Homo sapiens: one gene and its partners. The protein of the gene in region 3 interacts with the protein of the main gene of each other region in a pairwise test. Each region holds a gene or a part of one and is shown on either strand. Other genes may lie near its edges.

Region 1 (6,804 bases), on a different chromosome or scaffold from region 3:
TGGCAGCATAGGAGGCTGTGAGAAATGGCCAGATTTTGAAGGTTTTGAAGGTAAGGTCAATATGATTTTCTGAAAGATATAATTTGGGATGTGTGAAAAAGGGAAAAGTAAAAAATGCCTCCAAGTCTTCTGGCCTGAGCACCTAGTAAAATGGAATTGCCATCAGCTGAAGCACTGATGTAAATAATGTTTTGGAAATAAAATCAGGAATTTGAGTTTTGAACATGAACTATGTCAAGTAGGCAATTGGATATATGAGAAGAGGAATCTTGGCTGGATATGCAAATTTGAGAATTATCAGTCTATAGAGGATAAAAGTATTTAAAGAGAAATGGACCAACGACTGAACCCTGTTATGAGGTAGGGAAGAAGACAGCGGAGAATCAGGAGTGACCAGTGAGGTAGAAGGAAAACCAGGAGTATGTGTTGTCCTGGAAGGCAATAAACAGTGTATTAAGGAGGTGGGAGTAATCAATCATGCCAGATGCTGCTGCTAAGGCAATTAAGGTGAGAGCAGAGAACTGGCCATTGAACTTGAATTCCTGGAGGTCTCTGGTGACAAGAACAGTTTTGATATCCAGGTGGGGGTGAAAGCCTAACTAGAATGCCTTCAAGAGAGAATGGTAGGAGATAAAGATAGCAAGCACAGGTTTGCTGCAAAGGATAACGGATAAACGGAGCAGCAGTTGGAGAGGAAGTAGGGACAAGTTTTTTTATTTTTAAGATGGAAAAAAATAACAGTGTTTGTAGGTCATGGGATAAATCCAGGAGAGAAGAAAAACTGATGATCTAGAAGACACTGGAGAATTGCTAGTGATGTCCCTGAATAAACAGGATGAAGTTTAATGTAGAGACTGGTTTTAATAGAAGCATGGATATTTCATTTAAGCAAAGTATATGAGTTTAGATGCTGATAAGCAGGTACAGTGGTGGAAGTCTGTGTAAGTAACCTTTTAACTGCTTCAATTTATCAATGAATTAGGAAGCAAGGTCTTTAACTGAGAATGAAGACAAGGGAAGAGATACAGGGTTTAAGAGAGAAAAAAAGGTGTTCTAGGTAATCCCAGCTTGGCAGTCACTGCTCTAAAATGCAAGACCTTTTCAAAGCCTGTACATGATACGGCCAGCCAACTAAATGTTGTACTGTTCACAATAACTTACATTCGTTGAGGATTTACCATTTGCCATGCTAACTGCTTCAAATATATTATCTCATCTAATTATCTTGATGAGCTTGAGTTAAGTAAATACTGTCATCTCAACTACCAAAATAAAAATAGGGTTAACCTCAAGACATTCCAGCCAGGCATATCCAGAGAAGCCAAAAAAAATTTGCTTTAGTTTATTCAAAAAATTTGCTGGAATTCTTATTGTGTGAGACATTGTGCTAGTGTTGACAACACAATGGCAACCTAAAACAATATTCCTGTCTTCTTGAATCCTAGTCTATTAGTAAAAGACATTAAATCAAGTAATTGAACTATCAAGTTACAAGTATGATAAGTGCAAGAGAGACAGATGTATGCTACCTGAGCCTGTAACAAGGGGGAGCTGTCCTAATCTGGGGGGCAGCGCGTAGAAGGGAACATGGACAAAAAAATTTTCCTGAGGAAGTAACTTTTCAGCAGAGGTCTAATGGATGAGAAAGAGTTAACCTATCAATCTACAAAGAGAGATAGCCGTGGTTGATTAAAAACTACTAATGTGTGACAGACATTGTGCTTGGTGCTTTATACACATTCTTTTTTTTTTTTTTGAGACGGAGTCTCGCTCTGTCGCCCAGGCCAGACTGCGGACTGCAGTGGCGCAATCTCGGCTCACTGCAAGCTCCGCTTCCCGGGTTCACGCCATTCTCCTGCCTCAGCCTCCCGAGTAGCTGGGATTACAGGCGTGAGCCACCGCACCCGGCCGCTTTATACACATTCTTATTCAATCTTCTCAACAACTTCAAGAGGTTGAAGGTATTTCCCTCATTTTACACATGCAAGCTGAGGCATAGAAAGTTTTAAGTAACTTGCTTAGGGTTACCCGCAAGTTAAGACGCGAAGTGTGATGGGAACTAGAATCTACCTAGAAACCATGGTGCTGCAACCATTTTTCCTGTCCTGCTTCTCAAAAATATAGCACACACAAAGCATTTGGGACACAGGAAACTCTGGGAATCAAACTGCCTGAGTTCTTACCCCGCCTCCACTACTCACTGGCTGCATGAACTTGGACAAGTTATTTAATTTCTGGTTTAATCATCTATAAAAACAAGCACAATAACACCCACCTAATCGGTTACTGAAAGGATTAAATGAGATAACGAATGAAAAGCAATTAGGGTAGAATCTGACACACGGCTGGGGCAGTGCTGTCCAGCAGAAATATAACGCGAGTCATGTACGTGATTTTAAATGTTCTAGGAGCCATCATGATTTAAAAAGTAAACAAAGATGAAAAATTAATTTACATATTTAAACAAATACACTCAAAACATCATTTCAACATGTAATCATTATAAAAATTATTAATGAGATATTACTCCTTATGCGCTATCTCTGAAACCCAATATGTATCTCCCATCTGCACCATTTCTTAGTTCGGGCTAGAGGCTACCGTACCGCACAGCGCAGATCCAGTGGCGGTTATAATTTTGAGGACCCGGCAACCGACCCAACGTTCCATATTTGTCCAGAATCCCTGAGGGCGGCGAGGTGGTCCAGCGGAAGATAAGACCGGCTCGGAACCCAGTGTATAAGACCCCAGGGTTCCGGGGAAGGAGATGTTTCAGCTAAAGGCCTCGGCCGAGACCCCGGCCCCTAGCTTTCTTTAGGGCCTGTTCGACTCTCCCCACTGCCGCTCTCCACACCCACCTCCCACCAGGCCCCTTGCCCCTACCTCTCACGCTAGTCCCCTGCTGCCGCAGCCAGCGGCTCCTAATGGGAGCTCAGGGCGTCCACATTGAGGACGCTAACTCCACAGTCGCCGGCCCATTCGCTCAGCTAGCTCTCGAGTAAGCGCCTGGGATATTTGAATGCAGTTCCCGCGAGAAGTCCCACGTCTCACGAGACGTCCGCCCAAGCCGCGCGGAAAGGAAAAACCAAGAGAAACGCCCAATGGAGCGCCCACCCCCTCCTACAGCTACTGCGCATGTGCAAGTGGCGCGCCGTGGGCTTGGCGCAGGCGCAGGCGCAGACGTGGCTCCACATAAATTTTTCCTTGGGCTGGTTTCCTGCATGTCTTTTAAGTATTTGCTTTTAGTTTCCGTGTTTTGGTGTTTTGTTTGTTCGTTTTTTTTTTTTTTTTGTTTTTACGACAATGCCTTCTAGGGGAACAGTGTCGCTGGGCTGGGCGGTGGAGAGACACCTTTGGCACCATCGTGCGATCTCATGCACCCTACCAGTGGTAATACTGGCGTTAATATTTAAGTTCCCACCATGTGTTAAAGTTTACAGATTATCTCAGTTAAGCCCGCAGCCTTATGAGGCAGATATTACTCCTCGTTTTCTACAGAGAAAAAGCCCGAAGAAAAAAAGTGCCTTGTCCAAGTGGTAGAACTAGAATTGAATGCAGTCTTAGAGTCCAAGCTGTTTGCATGTGTTTTTAATAATAATATTTTGTAACCCTGATGCCTATTCAAAAATTGAAGCGATCAGAAATAATAATAGATAACATTTAATGAGCACTGATGAGTCCTAGTAACTGTTACATGAATCATGTCGTTCTTTCGAGCCCATCTTTTCTTGCCTATTTGAGAACTTGGCTCTAACTGCTCTTTTTTGCATCTTCAGTTTTTTCTTCTCTATTGGATCTTCCCTATCAGTTCATAAACATGCTGCAGTGATTGCCATAAAATCATTTCATGATTTCATTTTTTAAAAAATCCTCCTTGACACCAATCGGCAACCACCCCATTTGTTTTCTTCTCTTTATAACAAAATTTCTGGGGAAAAAAAATCTTTACATCCATTATCTCCATTTTCTTACCTTTTGTTCTTTTGTTTGTTTTTCCCACTTTAACCAGGATTTGGTCCCAACCAATACTATGAAGTGGCTCTTGTTAGGTTTACCAGTGATTCCTACCTTGCAAAATTCGGTAGTCAATATTTAGTCCTCACTTCTGGTGAAATTTGACAGAGTTGCTTGCTCTCATTGATTTGAGTCTTTATGTCTTGGGATGCCACACTCTCCTTGCCCTCTTCTTCTCAGTTTCTTTTGCAGACTACAATTTCTGCCTGAGCTAAGCCAGACTCAAAGGGTTGATCTGAGCTTTAAGATTGGCAACAAATTGCTCACAGTGTTGTCTCACAGATTTATCTGGGACTCCAATGAACCAGATGCTCATTCATTTGTAATCACACCTATGTTCTTGGAGAAATGAAACAAATACCATTTTCCCTATCACTGAACAAAGATTCCTTAACTCAGGGGCCAGGAAAAGATTGTTCTAGCTTAGGCCAATCATGACTGGCTGCAATTAGGTAATCTAAAATCGATCTGAACTTATTTTTTCTCCTTTGTTACAAGAGAAGGTATACCCTATGTTATTAATGTTTCTTCCTATTCTATTTTAAAAATATGTATTTTAAACTATTAATTGAGTGACTGCAATGTGTTAGGCATAGTGGAGGAATTCAGAGATGTGGTAAACTCGACTATTGCCTAGAAGATGCTCGCAATATAGTAGGAGATTTTAAAAAACAAATAGAACTTACAGGGCTGTAAATGCTATGCAAGTGGTATGTGCCCCACACTAAAGGAGTTGTGTGAAGGGAGAGGTATATTTTGTCTAAATGTTCCTTTAAAACTTCCCAGTGCATGTGACACTTCAAGCAGGGCCTTGAAGGATGGCAGAGCTAAGGAGGGGTGCATTCTAGGGGAGGGGACAGCATTAGGAAAGTCTTAGAGGTTACCCCATGTCATAATAAAGGTCATTCTTTAGGGATGGCCTGAATACAGGACTGCCAATACCACCACTGGACGCTAGATGTCACAAGTGAAATGAATTCTAGATGGGTTCTACTTTTAAGATAACTTAATGGAACTTCTGATTCACAATACCAGATGCAGATCTCCGTACTCAGGCAAGGTCCGCATACCATGGCCTAAATACCAAAGGTCAGGAAAAAGCAAAAAACAGCAACCTTGTATCTGTTATTTTCCATTTACGTAAGGAGAGATGGGACTTGGCCTCCTCACACAGTAGTGGATTCACCAAGCATAGGATGGGAGTTCAGATTCTGGGAAACAACACCCACCTCCCAACTCTGTGGCCCTCAGTTACAATTCCTAATATTATAGCTGTTCAGAACTGGGATAGACTCCTGTAGTGAACTTGTCATCATTTCTTCATTGTGACTGTTCTAGACGAAACGAGAGGATTAGACTGTTACGTTATATTGAAAGCTGCATATATTTTGACAGGAACTTATTGAATGATCATTTGTTTTGGGCATTACAAATGAATAGTCTCTGTATTAAACGAACTTAGAGTTTAGTGGAAGAGACATTTACCAAACAATAAACAGTAAATCCTTACTTAGAGGATGACTTAGACTTTCTTGTTCCTTCATGTTATTAAGTAGAGCTGCAAGCTAGTCATCGCTGGGATCAAGCAAAAACAAGCTCAGGACTCTGAGACACAGAGTCTGCAAATAAGAATGAGATTAAGCTGTAGAGTGCTGTGATTTATAGGATGGGCTGGAATATGAAGTTACGAAAGTTACACTCAAGGTTGTGGTCACTGAAACTTGGGGGATGGCCGAGATGAAGAAAAAAAGCTTTGAGAGAGAACGGAGGGGTGTGTGCAGGACTTTTGGGATTGTCCTAATCCATGGCACAGGAGGAGAATAAGGATCCAACAAGAAAAACAGGAGCCATATGAGAAGAGATCAGGAAATTGAATTGTCACAACTTCCACTGTGATAATTAGATATCAGAATGAATCATTGTACCAGGCAGGTGGGTTTGACTGTTTAATAGTAATAATGATAATGAAACCCAGTCTGCGATCTCTCCTGTATCAACAATGTATAGCATCAGCTTGAACTCTGAATGAGCCTAATAGCTATACTATTTTTTCTTTAAATAGGGGGAATCTTCTCTCAGAGAAAGAGTGCACCATCCCAATATAGTAGACATTTAACAGCTAACATCCTAGCATGAATTCCTTCCTCCTATTCCCACCAAGAGAATTCTGATTATTCTTTTGTATAATTTCTATTTTCTCAATTTTCAGCCATATGAATTCTTTAAAACTGATGCTACCTTTCATCTCTAGGATATCCCGTCACCCTGGTTACAGTAATTGATTCAAAGATGTGCATGTGATGGAATCTAAGCCAAAGAGATTTTTCACTGGGACAGCTGGAAAAATGGATTTTGTTAACTGCCTCTGTTATAGTCTGAATTGTGTCCTCACCTCCATTGCCCCCCACCCCATATTCATATGTTGAAACCCTAATTCCCAATGTGACTGTATTTGGAGACAGGGCCCTTTAGGTTAAATGAGGTCACAAGGGTGAGGCCTTAATTGATAGGGCTACTGTCCTTATAAGAAGAGGAAGAGACATCAGAGATAGATCCCCTTCCTCTTTATCTCTCCCTCTCTTTTCCCCACTACTCCCAAGTGCGCACAGCGAGAAGGAGGCTGTCTGCAACCCAGGGAGAGAGACTTCACCAGAAACCAACCTTAGTCTTGGACTCCCAGCCTCCAGAACTGTGAGAAAATGTCTGTTATTTAAGCCACCCAATCTGTGGTATTTTGTTACAGTTGCCTGAGCAGATTAATACACCCTCTGTACTTAAACTTTATAACCC
Region 2 (7,000 bases), on a different chromosome or scaffold from region 3:
ATCCTAGCACTTTCAGAAGCCAAAGCAGGCCAATTGCTTGATCCCAGGAGTTCCAGACCAGCCTGAACAACACGGCGAAACCCTGTGTCTACAAAAAAACAAACAAACGAACAAAAATTACCCAGATGTGGTGGTGTGCACCTGTGGTCCCAGCTACTCGGGAGACTGAGGTGGGAGGATCACCTGAGTCCAGGGAGGTCAAGGCTGCAGTGAGCCATGATTGCATCACTGCACTCCAGCCTGGGTGACAGAGTGAGACCCTATTTCCCCCCACCCCCAAAAAAAGCAAGAGATGAGGGAGGATAAATGTTTCATAAAATAACAAAATGTTGTTTTCAGTCGCTAAAATTCACTTGACTATGTCTTTTTTTTTTTTCTGAACAAAATGGTTTATATTAGCCAAAGAAACAAGAGGGAGTTGAGCATTTTAAATAAATTAATTTTTGTTTACTCATGTCAAGATATGTCTGCAATAAAAATGTCACCCATTAGTCTATTTTTAAAAATTCTGTTTTCTCTGTTTTGAGGAGCTTTTATGGAAGCACCAGACTATAATATTGTTCTGAGCTCACTTCTGGTACTACACAATTCTCTATTAGAATCCCAGATCTCCACTTATTGGCTGTGTGAGCATGGCAAGTAATTTTCTAAACCTCTTTCCTTAGCTGTGGAAGGGGGATAAAAATAATACGTACTTCTATTTTACCAGAATTGAGGATTATTTGGTGTTGTATGTGAAAACATTCTCTAAGCTATAATCAACTATAATATTCATTGATATTACTAGTCACATGCTGTATTTTAAAATGCTGCCAGTACAATTTATTTTCTGGTGGATATTGCTATATAGATACTGTCAGCTGCTTTTTTTTTAAATGGGTTGGTCATGCAAGAAAGTATATTGTTTGGTTTGGTTATGAATGATTTAGTTGGTTCTTATGAGTCAGAGAGAGAATTATGGAAGAGGGTTGGAGGGACCTTGGGAAATTTTCTACTTCATCTCTCTGACTCTTAACCTGAATCTGTTAGCGTGAGCATAAATGGTCTTCCAAGGGTCTGTGAACTCTGTATATTTATACTTTTCTGGGGAGAAATTAAATGAAAATTTATACTTTTCTGGGGAAAAATTAAATTAAAAGAGCATCATGACCTTGTTCCCACTAAAGGTTTAGGAAACCACTAGCTTCAATGATCTAGGCAGGTTTCTTTAGTAAAAATGTTAGAGATTATTTTTAAAATTAGTTTTTTGTGGAAAGGAAAGAGAAACAGGTTATATTGCGGAAAGGAAAGAGAACAGGCTATTTTTGAAGCACTGAGTATCTGTTTTTCTTCCAAAGCTAGAAGTTGATATTTATGATACACTACCTTCATATGAATAATAGTGCTGCTACTTCTACCTGGAAGTGGTACCTTTGATTGATTCATTATCATTAGGCAGGTATTGTCTACTCCTCTCTTCTTCCCCACCCCCAGCCTTGATGGGCAATACAGTGGAGGCAGAGAATGGGACTTTAATACAATCCAGCATGTCAGAATATTATTTAAAATGCCAAAAGATAATTTGGCTTGTTTATTCTAAATTTGGATGTTCTTTGTTTTCACAACAAAACACCCAATGTTAAAGAAAATTAAGTGTTTAATCTTTCAAACTAGATGATGATATATACATAATCTGTTGTATGATATTTCTTGTATATCATAGAGTATAAAATTTTATTAAATCCTAATTGATGATCACTTTGACTTTTAGTACTGCTAGTTTGAAAAGATGGATATGTATGTTTTCAAGAAATTTACAGTTTGCTTTTGTAGATTATATTATAATTTGTGATTTTCATTTATAACATTTAAAACTTATTTGCTTTTTTTGAATTTCTGAATCGGACATACTTTTAAATCTGAGTTTATTCTTATAAGAATAAGCGTTTGGAATTTTGCCCTGTTTTCCTTGTATAATGATTGCTGGGCTATAAGGCTTTACAGTGTAAAACCAAGTTCTGTTCTGGATCAGTTACTAGTAGCATTCCCAAGGCTGGGAGAGTATGAGGTGGATCAAGTGATGCTAAACAAACTTGTGAATGAATCTGTCCATCAAGTAATGTCTTTTTCCTTGAGATCTTTTTTTCCTTTGATATTAATATTTTCATTTAAAGTTGAAATGTTTTTCAAAGTTCAAGGTTCTAAACCAATATTTGGGAATTTATAGAATAAAGTAGCAGAAGTGTGGTTCTTTGTAAAAATAGTCTGAGAAGTCTGAAATAGACCTCAAAGATTAGTAGTAGAGATGAATGCCAATATTGCAGCATACTTTATATATAAAAGATAAGTCACTACGTTGGATCTTTAGTTATTTTAATGCAGAGGATTGCTTAACTTTAATAATGAAAGTTTGAATTAAATTAATTAGATATGGAAAACAAAAGGGAATAATTTCAGCAAAAATTTTACCTATGGGAATCCAATCATTTTAAGATCAGTGATTTGTATGGCTTCTCCTACACTTAAACCTTAAAAAATTCTGGCCGAGCGGGGTGGCTCACGCCTATAATTCCAGCACCGTGGGAGGCCGAGGCAGGTGGATCACTTGAGGCCAAGAGTTCCAGACCAGCCTGGTCAACATGATGAAACCCTCTCTCTACTAAAAATACAAAAATTATCTGGGCATGGTGGTGCACAGTTGTAATCCCAGCTACTTGAGAGGCGGAGGCTGGAGGATCATGTGAACCCAGGAGGAGGAGGCTGCAGTGAGCTGAGATTGTGCCACTGCACTCCAGCCTGGGTGACAAAGCAAGACTCCATCTCAAAGAAAAAACAAAACCAAAAAAAAACCTTTAAAAATTCCTGAAACATTTCCTGTATAGGGAGAATATTATTAATACCACTATTTTGGTTCTCATTGTCATTTACACATAGGCACCTCCATACAGAGATAACATTAATTCTGTCTTTGGCCTAGTGATAAGAGCTTGGGCTTTGTAGTCAGGCAAGTCTCTATTGAATCCTCGACATTGCACTTCATAGCTATGAGACCTTGGTTAGGTGTCTTAACTTCTCTGGGCCTCATTATCCAAAACTGCAAAAAAATAGGAATTTTACCTCTTTGAGTTATCCCAAGGATTGAAATGAATACATGTAAGTATTTAACTCATGATGACAATTATATATATATATATATATATATATATATATATATATATATATATCTGTTATGTGCCAGTTTGTTAACTCATTTAAGTTTTATAGCAATCCTATGAGGTTGATACTATTATTTTCCTCATTTTTACAGATGAGGAAACTAAAGCTAATGAAACGTTATGTAACTTAACCAATATCATACAATGAATATACAACTAATAAGTAGATAGAAGCACCCAATTAATGCTTGCTGTTGTCATTAAAAAAAAAAAGATGACTTAGGGTATTACCATCTTTTCTATAGTGGGTTCCTAATAATTGCAATCTCATGTAGAGCATTATAAAGCATATTTTATTTCTTTGCTGGAAAAAATGTTGATTGCAGGACTGTGTTCCTGACCAAGGACTCAGGATCACATAATTTATAAAAGTAATAACATCTGTTTATTGAATCTTACTATGTACTAGATACAGAGCTAAATACTTTATATAAATTACTTCACTTACCCATCACAACAACCTTAGAGCTGAGGCTCAGAGTAATTTTAAGTAACTTGCCCGAGGCTGCACAATTAACACAGAATCCCAAAACTGTCTAGCTCTAAAGTGTCTGCTGCTAACCGCCAGTTTATGTGCCTTGTGTCGCGTATGGCTGACAGATATCTCTCAAAAGCAAGGCAACAGCTTCTATAATTTTAAATAGCAAAATGTGCTACTGTAATTTTGAACCAGAAGGAAACTGATTACCTACTGCCTGTAGGCTAAACCAAGCTTGCTGCCTGTTTTTGTAAACAAAGTTTTATTGGAACACAGCCATGCTGTGTTCTTTTAAAAATAAAGACATTGAGACACAGAGAGATTAGGTAACTTCCCAGTAATGTAGCTAGTAGTAATCTAATGTCAGTAACTATGTTAATAAGCCTCTGAAAGTCTGCCAATCCCTGAATCCCATGCTACCCCCTAAACTCTATGTAAGCTCAGCAATGTGCTCTATTCAGAGGGACCGTGCCTGGATGGCATAGCTATCCCTTCAGTAAGTAGTAAATTCAGCTTTGTGCTTTTCGTTTGGTTTCAAACATCCAGTGTGAAATATTCCATACTTTGATACTTGGCAACAAATTATTGATAAATTAATTTTTTAGTAGGCATTGTTATCTTAAGTACAACCCTGTCACTTCTCTGACATTCTCAAATAAAAATAATGAGTAATATAGGCCCCTGTTAAGGTTCATGCATGTAGTTCGCATATTTAGGTAAAATTCAAGATCTTTCTTTTAATACTTTATACTAGACTTTTAGACCACTATGATTGTGATAAACTAAGTGGCCCAGTTCAAACAAGGAAATGATTACTGTAAGGTGTCAAAGGAATTCCTTTTTAATAAAACAGATCCCAAAATAAACATCTTACAAAGTATTCAGTGTAGTGAAAATGTTGTTTATAGACCCTAGAAATGACATTAGTATTTAACAAGCAGGCTTTGATAATAGTAGTATCTAATATTGCGTGTGTCATTTAAGGATGGGGATACACTCTTAAGAAACATGTTAATAGGCAATTTTGCCATTGTGCAAACGTCATAGAGTATACTTACACAAACCTAGGTGGTATAGCCTACTACACACCTAGGCTCTGTGGTGTAGCCTGTTGCTCCTGGGTTACAAACCTATACAGCATGTAGTAACATGCTGAATAATATAGTCAATACTGTAACACAGTGGTTACCTATTCGTGTGTCTAAACAGAAAAGGTACAGCAAAAATAAAGTGTTATAATCTTATGAGACTATCATCTATGCATTGGTCACCATCATCATCTATTGTGGACCAGAACACTGATATGCAGCACATGACTGTAAAGACTGTAAATGCTATTGTTAAGAAAATTTTTTTTTTTCTTTTTGAGATAAGGTCTCACTGTGTCGCTTAGGCTGGAGTCCACTGGCAAGATCATGGCTCACTACAGCCTTGACCTCCCTGGGCTCAGATGATCCTCCTACCTCAGTCCCCTGAGTAGCTGGGACTACAAGTGCAAGCCACCTCACCTGGCTAATTTTTTGATCTTTTGTCGAGACTGGCTCTCACTATGTTGCTCAGGCTGGTCTTGAACTCCTGGTAGGCTCAAGCAGTCCTCCCAGCTCATTGGTAACTGGTTGTTTTTAGCTTTTCAGTTTTCAAAAAAAAATTACTAGGTTGTATAACTCACAGCCTAAGTCATCAAGATATTTCTTAAAAGGTGGAACTGTTACATGAGAGGGCACGTAAATTAAAAAGATTTTGGATATCTTAGCTAAATGGAGCCTAGGAAGGCTTATATGAACAGCAGTGTGAGAGTGTTTATTTCCTGACAGCCCTACCAATTTTATTTTTTGTCTTTGGCAATATTTAATTTCATTGATTAATAAGGATTTTTAAATATTCTCATTGATCATTTTCCCTTTCATTAAATCTACCTTTTTTCTATACGTAAGGACAGTTTTCAGCAGACAGTGTTGCTGTACTACTAACTGAAGGCCATGTTATTGTTGGTCTTTACTCAGTTATTGTTCAAGAACACATCTGTCTAAAAGAGGACTCTGACATCGAGCTGTTGCAGGCATCTAATTCACACTTAAGTTTAACTATGACTTTGACTTCAGCACCAGTGACCTCTCTAATCAGTCTTTCCAGTAACCTACTAGATCTCTCCATTGGGTCTCCTATCAGTGTTGAATTTCAGCACGCCCTGACTTCCAGTTAGGAAATTATTCTTTCCAACTCAGTGATCTCGGCTCATTGCAACCTCCATCTCCCAGGCTCAAGTAGCTGGGACCACAGGCATGTGCCACTATGCCTGGCTAATTTTTGTATTTTTTGTAGAGATGGGGTTTTGCTTTGTTGTCCAGGCTGGTCTCAAACTCCTGGGCTCAAGTGATCTGCCTGCCTTGGCCTCCCAAAGTGCTGGGATTACAGGCTTGAGCCACTGTGCCTGGCCAAGAAAAACATTTTTTTAAAGTCACGGCAGTAATTTGTTGGAAGTCATGTATACTTTGAGTAGGAACTATTGAAGCTATTATACAGTTTTTCAAACCAGCAGATTCTCGTTTAATGATTGGTATATTTTGGACTGTTTGATTCAAAATTTTAAATGTAAATAAAAAGGAAATAATGAGTATAGCCTACTTTTTTCCTGACTTAAAAGTAAAAATGGAAATTTTAAGAAGAGTATTACCTTTGAAATAAAGTGATTCAAAAATTGAAGTAAATGTCTTATGCACAGTGTTACTTTAGTTAAAATTATTTAAGCATACATTAATTTGGATTATAGTAGAAAAATAATCTCTAGTGTTCATAATCTGTTCATCCATTATAAAAATATTTTAAGTACTTCTGTTTGTTTATTGTGTTATATGTGTTTACTGAACATGGGAGTAATAGCAGTGAAGAGAGACGGTGCCTATACTTTAGGGGCTTATGTAGTGTTACAGGGAAGACTAGTAGTGAATAGGCACTTATAAGTATTAAGTATTTTGAATTTGACCAAAAATTGAATAGGGTATACTTTGTGATAAGTATAATGAAAAAAATATCAGACTTTTGTGGGAGCACAGAGGAAGTACACTAGGAATAGGAAGATGTTTTGGGATGGCCTTCCTGAGCAGATGAACCTGGGCTGATCTTAGAAGATGAGCAAGAGTTAGCAGGAGAGAGGGGTGGTAAAGGGCATTTCAGAAAGAGCAGAAAGCCTGAAAGGAGGCAGAGAGGTGTGAAATAGCCTAAAGTATGTGGAAAATTAAACACATTCAGGTTTTGCTCTATGGAACATGGGGTGGGGTTTGCCATTTTGTTATTTCACAAGTATGCAAGAATTGATTTTGGTAAATGC
Region 3 (8,392 bases):
TTCAAAAATATAAATAAGTTGAAAGTGAAAAGATGAAAAAAGATACATCATACAAATAGCAACTATAAGAAAGCTGGGGCAGCTATATTAATATCTGACAAAGTATATATTAAAATAAAAAAATGTTACTAGAGATAAAGAAGGACAAAAGTCCCAAAATGAATGTAGAAAAAAACTGACAGAATTGAAGGAAGAGATTATTCAACAACAGTCAGAGAATTCAATACACTACTTTCATAATAGACAGAAATAGGCATATCAACAAGGAAATAGAAGACTTGAACAACACAACAGGCCAACACTATAGACCTAACAGCCATCTATCTATAGAACACAGCATCCAACAACAGTACAATACATACTCTTAAGTACACATGGATTATTCTGCAGGATAAACCATATGCTAAGCCAGAAAGCAAACCTCGATAAATTTAAGACTGAGATCATATAAAGTATGTTTTCTGATCACAACAGAAAAAAATTATAAATCAATAACAAATTTGGGAATTCATAAATATGTGGAAATTAAACAATGTACTCCTAAATAACCATTGCATCAAAAAGAAATTAAAAGGCAAAGTATTTTCTAATACCTTGAGATGAATGAAAACAAAAACATGGCATACCAAAACTTATTGGATGCAGCTAAAGCAATGCTCAGAGGAAAATTTATAACTGTTAATGCCTTTATTCAAAAAAGAATTCAAATCAATAACCTAACCTTCCACCTTAAAATACTGGAAAAGACACAAACTAAATACAAAGCAAGCAGAAGTTAGTCTGCTTTCTTACTAATCTTACTATTTTGTAAGATTTGAGCAGAGTTTGATGACATAGAGAATACAAACACAATAGAGAAAACCCCAAAATCCACTTTGGCTCCTTGAAAAAAATCAATAAAATTGACAAGCCTTCAGCTAAACTAACCAACAAAAAAAGAGTAAACTCAAATTATCTTAATTGGCAAACCTTCTGACAACAGTATTACTTTACACACCATCAGGTACGTTAGTTACCATGAATCAGAGGCACTTACATGTGTATAAGCTACATGAAAAATCATTTCACTTTGTTGCCTTATTAAATTGTTTCATAAACAAAATGCACCCTAAATTAAATTTCAAGATCTATGACATTTGTCATTAATTCTCCCCTTTTTCTTTGGGAGATTCCTGCCCCAATTACAGGGTCCATCACATAGGTTTTACTTTCTTTCCTATCACACCATCAAAACAGATTTGAGATTAGTTGTTGTGCTTTCGTTTACTGACAAACTACCTTTCAAATTCATTCCTACAAAAGCGTATTATAAACAGTATTCATATTCTGAATCTGAGGTAACTAACTGTGGAATTAAAGGATTTTCCATATAAAGAATATTATGCCTCCAAACAATGTCACCAATGGACACCATGATCTGAACCAAGTAGTTCATTTCAGTCTTTTACTCAGAAAATATACAGTAAATAAATTCAAATTGCTTCAATATACAGACATAAACACACATACACACACACCTGTGAAGGGTGAAGTCTGAACAACTAGATGTTATCCTGAAAGTCATTTAATTACTATTTGTTATTGTATTTGTTTATTTTGTGTATTTCAGGGAAAGATGAAAGAAGATTGCAAGAAGCATCAGAAGTCTAGTTCAAGAACAATCCCTGACTGTTCAGCACCAACCCGGTCAGGAGTGGAGAGGCTGGTACCTGTGCAGTGTTTTGTTCCAGGAATGCCATATGAATGGCCTCTCATTTATGGAAGGCTTCAGATCTAGTCTTTTGATGTTAATTACAAATAAGGCTGCACGTGTGCAGCCAATGTTTGGCATGTGAGTGGTAACAGTGCTAGATGTAAATATTTTTGTCACAGTTTTGTAACCATGCTTCACCGTTTCCTCATTGTTGGACACTAGGAACTGTTATACACAAGGGAAGTCCAGGACCTCTCTCCGCTTTCAGAGGCACTGCCTGGTGCTGACCCCATGTGATCCAGGGCTACCAACAGATCTCAACCCTTAGCAAGCCTCAACTTTTCCACACATTGCCATAACCCTAGTCCTTTCTCTTGCTGCCCAAGAATACATGATGAACTTTCTTTGCTTGAATTTCAGGGATATCTGGTGTGATTTTCATTTGTATTTAATGCTTCCATTATTACCGTCTCTACTCAACACATCTAAAAACTCTGAACATATACTTATTCCACCTGTCTTCTATTTCTATGACTTAGATATTCTGCATCACAAAATCCCTCCAAACTGGGACTATGTTTTTGAAGTCATTCATTTTACAATTATAACAACAATAACAATAATATTTATTGTTTGCTTTGTGCCAGGTACTCTACTGCTTTACATAAATTATCTCATTCTGTCACATCTAACGGCAACTAAGTATACGCTTACATCTGCTAGTGGCACCTAAAATAAGGATATTGTTGGTCATCTTTAAAGAAATGTCTTAACATACCAAAGTAGTGGAATCAATAGAATAAAATATTTAAGTCTTACAAAGCGTACGACACTAAAGTAATATAGGATACCACTAAATTTATATTTCTATGTATGGAAAGTAAAGCTATTCCTGGTACATGGTGCTGACCTTCTTTTTATCCTATTTCTTACACCTTTCTCAAATTCCTATTAAACCACAGCTTCGAATATGTCAAATAAATAAATTTGATCCATACATTCAGTTAAATCCTTCAACTATGTAGTAATACCTAAAGTGAGTATTATGTTGCTGCATTAATGCCAAAAAATGTTTCCCATGGCAATCCAGCCTAATATTAATTGTGGTATGGGTGCTGAAAAAATAAAATGAGACATAATTTTACTAATCATTCACTTTGCATTTTGAAGCTCTATGCTGTTCTTAATCAAAACTCTTATTTTATTATCAAGAATTACACTAGTTCTAAAATGAGTGAATTTTCTGTTGGAGACAGGAAATGAAGAACTACTAACACCGGGAATGTATTTTTCCTTTCTCAATATTAACACATGATATATATTCATATTAATAACAACTCTGGAAACTAGTTTCATTCCTTCTACACATAAGCAATAAACAGTATGTGCAACTATGAATCCTAGCAGCAGTAATGTGGATATATAATATAGGGTTTCTTTGGAATATACAGCCATTTCTAATATTTCATTTCAGCAAGTGTACAGGCAACCATCACAGATGTCCATCAAAGCTGGATTAGATGAAGACAAACAACGCAGGCTTTGAGGATAAACTGAAGGTGCAGCTCAAAAGTTTCCTTTTCTTATCCAAGGGCATTATAGGACCATTGTCTTCCTCCTTCAGGCAAAAAAAAAAAAAAAATGAATCAATTATGTTACTGATATTCTTCCACAGCAGACTGAAAAGTCTTTTTACAGTACAAGAGATAGTAAAAACTAAAAATTTCATAAGAAAATGTGGAAATTTCAAAAATATCTTTGTGCTCAAGTTTGTTATCTCTGCAATTTTTCCACAAAGTTTACCATAATTTTATTTCTATGGCAGACCTATTAATGCAGGATTTCACAGAAGCAAATACTTTCATCCAAAATAAATAATGCTTGAACTATTTTACAAACAAAAAATATGTATATCATGTCAAATAATAAAAATAAAGCTTTAAGTTCTTGTCATTCATTTCACATATAATAATCACAGATGGATGGTAGCTCAAGAGCACACAGACCCCTTCATTCCTAATTCCCAAATGACTTACAATTCTATTAAATAAATAATAAATGCAGAATATATATATATATATATATATATATATATATATATATATATATGACAATAGTACTTGTTTGAGATAACAAATAATGTGCTTCTCATATAGGAAAACAACATCAGCTAAGATTTTAGTTCAATGATACTGAACTTTTTGATGTTGAACTAGCATTGCTAGCAATGGCAGTGGGAAATTTGCAGTCTTATTAGTTGCCTAAGGTAGGTAATAAATCTCTATTAAAATTTAGAATGCATATACTTTTGGACTTGGAATTCTAGGAACTTATAATAGACATATAATTATCCAATCATACAAAGAGTCTATGTGTAAGGATATTCACTGCAAAAAGAAACTGGAAACAAACTAAATGGCCTCCTTCTGGGCAATGTCCTTTGGAAAAAAAGAAAAAATAATAAAACAAAATAGCCTCCTTTCCTTAATAAATTATATTACTATGCAGTATTTCAGAATTATGCATATATAGTATATATGTATCTGTGGACACACCTGCACACACACACACTATATATATATATATATATACACACACACATTTCTACATATGCATACATATATAAACATAGATACATACAAATATATAGAATGTCTGGAAAAATTTATTAGAAAATATTTATAATGCTGGGTTATGTATTTCCAAACTATATATTTTTTCCTGCTCCCACTCTACCAGGACCAAACTACATTTCAAATATGATAGTCACAATAAAATCTTTTTAAATTTTTTAATCTTTTTAAATTGACAGAAAATATTGTAGATATTTATCATGTCAACAAAATGTTTTAAAATATATACACATTGTGAAATGGCTAAATCGAGCTAATTAGCATGTGTATTACCTCACATAGTTAAAAATATACTTTTAGCACTTTTCAAGAAAGTGATATGAAATTGATTATCAAACTGTAAAATCACACCAATTCAGAGTTAATGGGGCCTAAAGGTCACAATGTATTTATTTTCTGCAAAAGGAAATAACCTGGGGTCCAGTGTTTCCCAAACTATGTTCCATAAAAAACAACAACCTGGTTGAAAAAACGAATCCATGTTAAAAAATACTGTATCAACTCTGTTAAAATATGGTTCTTTAATTCAAAGCCATTTCAGAGGCTCTAATATGCTGATGTGCATTGCAAATCTCCAAAAGGAGGATATTATTACATCCAGGATTCTCCAGATATATGTGAACAGTCACCTCTTGATTTAACACACATTTTGGAGGACCAGTGCGCTGCAGAACTCATTTGGGAGAGGCTGGTCTAGAAGCATGTATCCTAAGTTTATGAAATTTCATTATAAAGAATATATCCAGCCTTCTAAATATTAAGCTACCATGGCCCAAAACATGAAATAAAATATGGGTAGGTAAATACACAGTCATTCTAATCATACGAGGTCAGGTCTCAAGCCAAAGCAGAATTTAACATTTAGTATACATCCACAGTGCAACAGATGCACATACATGTTGGTGTCCTATTCATTTTTGAAGCTCTCAGGGCATGATTCAGGGGGTTCTTGGTAAATGCTGAATGAATTCTAATTTACCTACGTGTAGAATCTGCTGGTGAATTTGCACACTCACTCAGTTAAAATCTCCCTCACATGGGGAAACTCAATACCCTATGCTATTGAGCTTTTCTTACTTATATATTTTTCAAAGAAATGACACCCACCTATGCCAAGATCATATGATGATGATCTTATTAGCTTTACCTGCCTCAAAAATGTACACTTGATCTTGTTTACTGCAAATACCAGATTAACTGAAAAAATGTTTCAATGAAATCACAATCTGGGGTATGGATTTGGAATGAGGGAGAACCAAGTCCAAATCCCAGCTCTTCTATCCAATTTGCTGTAAGATTTTAGGCAATTTACTTGCCCCTTCTGAGACTCAGACAATATCTACTTCTTAGGGAATGTGTGGGACTGTAATGACAGCAGATATCATGTGCTGAGCATAGTACTATAAGTAATAATTTTGGTTGATTTTAAAATCATCTCACTAGCTAAAAATTAAACTACAATACTGTGCTCCAACATAAATGTGAAGTATGGCCCATTATGTTTATGCCATGTGTTGGAAGTTTACTTTTCAGTGTTTTAGAGAAAGTTTTCATAGGATAAAGTAATGCTTGGTCTCATCTGTTCCGTATTCCCAAGCTCCAGCCCAACACCTGACCCAAAGCACTCAGAAAATGTGTGTGTGCATGCATAAATAAGTGCAACAAAATGACAGTAGCAATTGCTAATATTATTTATATCAAAATTATGCATGCATATAAAGGCTTAAAGTTTTTAAATGTTTGTTATGAAACTATCAGTCCCTTGTCCTATGTGTCACCAATTTCCTTCTCCTTAACTCTTTTAGCTGATTATTTTAACACTAGAGAGCTAAATGGCATGATTGTATTGCTACCTTTCAATTTTGTTTCAGTATTATGTATAAATTTTTCCTATGGAGAATGAAGATTTGACCCTCTTTCCTCCTGTCAACATCATGCACACACACACACACACACACACACACACACACACACACCCCACCCCATATGAACCCTTCCCATCTTCCCATCACCCCATCCTCCAAATATGGCTATATAGTAAATCTGGTTGAATCAATTATGCAACTTCTATTATTGTAATGATGTAAAAGTATTCAGAGGTGAACTACATGTGTTAATTTTTCTTTCCTGCACAACATTTTGTTTTCTCTGGAGTGATAAATACCTTGGGTTTTTCCACCTAAGTGTTCTACGTGCTCATAACTGATTCAATGCACAAATACCTACCCATTGCCTAGCTCTCCTCTCAAGAAGTGAAGATATATCATGCATTGTATCAACTTCACCATTCCTGAAGAAAGCTCATCTAGAACCTTCTCACCTGCTCACATCTGGACTGACTGCCTGGTTTGCCTATGATCTCATTCTACTGTCATTCTGGCATTTATTCATCCCCTTGGTTTTTCTCCTTTGCTGGCTCTCCTGTTTCGTGGATCCCACATCTTTTTCCTTAGCTTACTCCATTTTGGTGTGGCAATATCAAGTAGCTTCTGGGAAATAAATTTGTGGTGGCTTTGATATCTATAAATGACTACTGTAACCACACACTGGGTTAAAAGTTTGACTAGGTAAGGAATTTGGTGGGTTGTAATTTTCCCTCAGAATTCTGAAGGTCATGCTCACTGCCTTAGCTTCCAGCGTTGCTTTTGAGAAGTCTGGTATTCAAATTCCAGATTCCTTGATTTTGACATGTTTGTTGCTTTGGTTTTTGCCATTCTGGAATTTCTCCCTCCATGTTCTGAAGTTTCACAATGATGGTGTCTTGGTGTGAGTGTGTTTTGATCTACTGTGCTGGGAATTCAGTGGATTCTTTCCATTTGTAACTTTATGCTCACGAGTTCTGGGGAAATGCTTTGGATAATTTTGTTGCCTGATTCCTCTCCTCCACTTTCTGTGTTCTCTCTCTAGCTTATTACGTGGACGATAGACCTCTTAAACTGGTCCTCTAATTTGCTTACATTACTGTATTTTTCATCTTTTTGCCTTTTGCTGTAATTTCTGAGAATTTTCAATTCTGCCTTCTGATTCATCTGTAGAAGTTCTCATTTCTGCTATCATGCTTTCAGTTTCCAAAAGCTCTGTTTTCTAAATATTCCTTTCTTAATAGCACCCTGTTTTTTTTGTGAATGCAATTTCTTTCCTTACCTCTCCAAATATATGAGTGACAACTTCTTGACAGTTTTTCTCTTCTTACAAAGTATTTATGTCTTTTAACTCACTTTATTGTCTGATTTGGGTTCTTTCATTTACAGTTCTTCTTCAAATATCTGTAACTGTTCATATCTGGGACTGGCAAACAACCACTACAACAAAACCAGAGTGGAGGCGGAGGGCACCGTGGAGGCCTCTTTATTACACCATCACCACTGGATAAGCCCGTTGGTCCACTTCTGCAGAGAAGTCACCTGGGCTGGTCAGACCCTCCCCAGAAGATACTTCCAGCTTCATCTGGAGAGTAGGGGCCTTTCTGCCAGTGTATGGGAGGATGACATGAGGTCTGAGGATGTTATTTACTCACTCAATTGTGTCTGTGTCCCCAAGTACAGAGTCTCTCTCTTAATCATCTCCAGAAGACAAGTATCTCCAGTCCACCAAGGCTTTGGAGGGGGCTGAGAGATTAAGTGCTTCTTAAATAGCTTTCAACCAATACAGATGTCTTTAGCCTCCTTTTACTCCAGCTTCCAGATGATGTCTGTTGCCACCAATTCCTGGGAATTTGAGAGATTCTATCATGCGAACGGGTTTGTTCCTCACATCTGCTAAATCTGTTACAAGACCATCTGCTTCCAGCTTCCAAAGTATTGTGGCTGTTGTCTCCTCTCTTGCTTCTGTATCCTTGTGAGGCAATGCACTTAAAAAAAAATCTCTTTCCTGTTATTTTAATGCAGTCTGTGGTGGAAACAAAATTAGTTGCCTACCTTCAATTGATGGTCATTATTTGAAATATAAGTTCATTTTTATGCCTTTGTGTATTTTCTAAAGTTCCTACAATAACTACATTAGTTAGTAATCAGAATACAAATTTATTTGGTAAAACCACCTAAAGAAGTAACACTTTGAATATATG

The links.
Region 1: the proteins of CA8 (region 3) and SPDL1 interact in binary tests that used the Homo sapiens proteins (3 or more experiments, as listed by UniProt).
Region 2: the proteins of CA8 (region 3) and KLHL8 interact in binary tests that used the Homo sapiens proteins (3 or more experiments, as listed by UniProt).

What each region holds. Positions count from the first base shown.
Region 1 is NC_000005.10:169,579,969-169,586,772, reverse strand, and holds the start of SPDL1 (protein Spindly), read right to left. Parts: upstream 3,001-6,804; 5' UTR 2,884-3,000; intron 2,694-2,883; exon of another isoform or gene 2,607-2,693; intron 1-2,606. UniProt on the Homo sapiens protein: Required for the localization of dynein and dynactin to the mitotic kintochore.
Region 2 is NC_000004.12:87,210,619-87,217,618, reverse strand, and holds part of KLHL8 (kelch-like protein 8), read left to right. Parts: intron 1-7,000. UniProt on the Homo sapiens protein: Substrate-specific adapter of a BCR (BTB-CUL3-RBX1) E3 ubiquitin ligase complex required for The BCR(KLHL8) ubiquitin ligase complex mediates ubiquitination and degradation of RAPSN.
Region 3 is NC_000008.11:60,186,675-60,195,066, forward strand, and holds part of CA8 (carbonic anhydrase-related protein), read right to left. Parts: intron 3,312-8,392; 3' UTR 1-3,311. UniProt on the Homo sapiens protein: Does not have a carbonic anhydrase catalytic activity.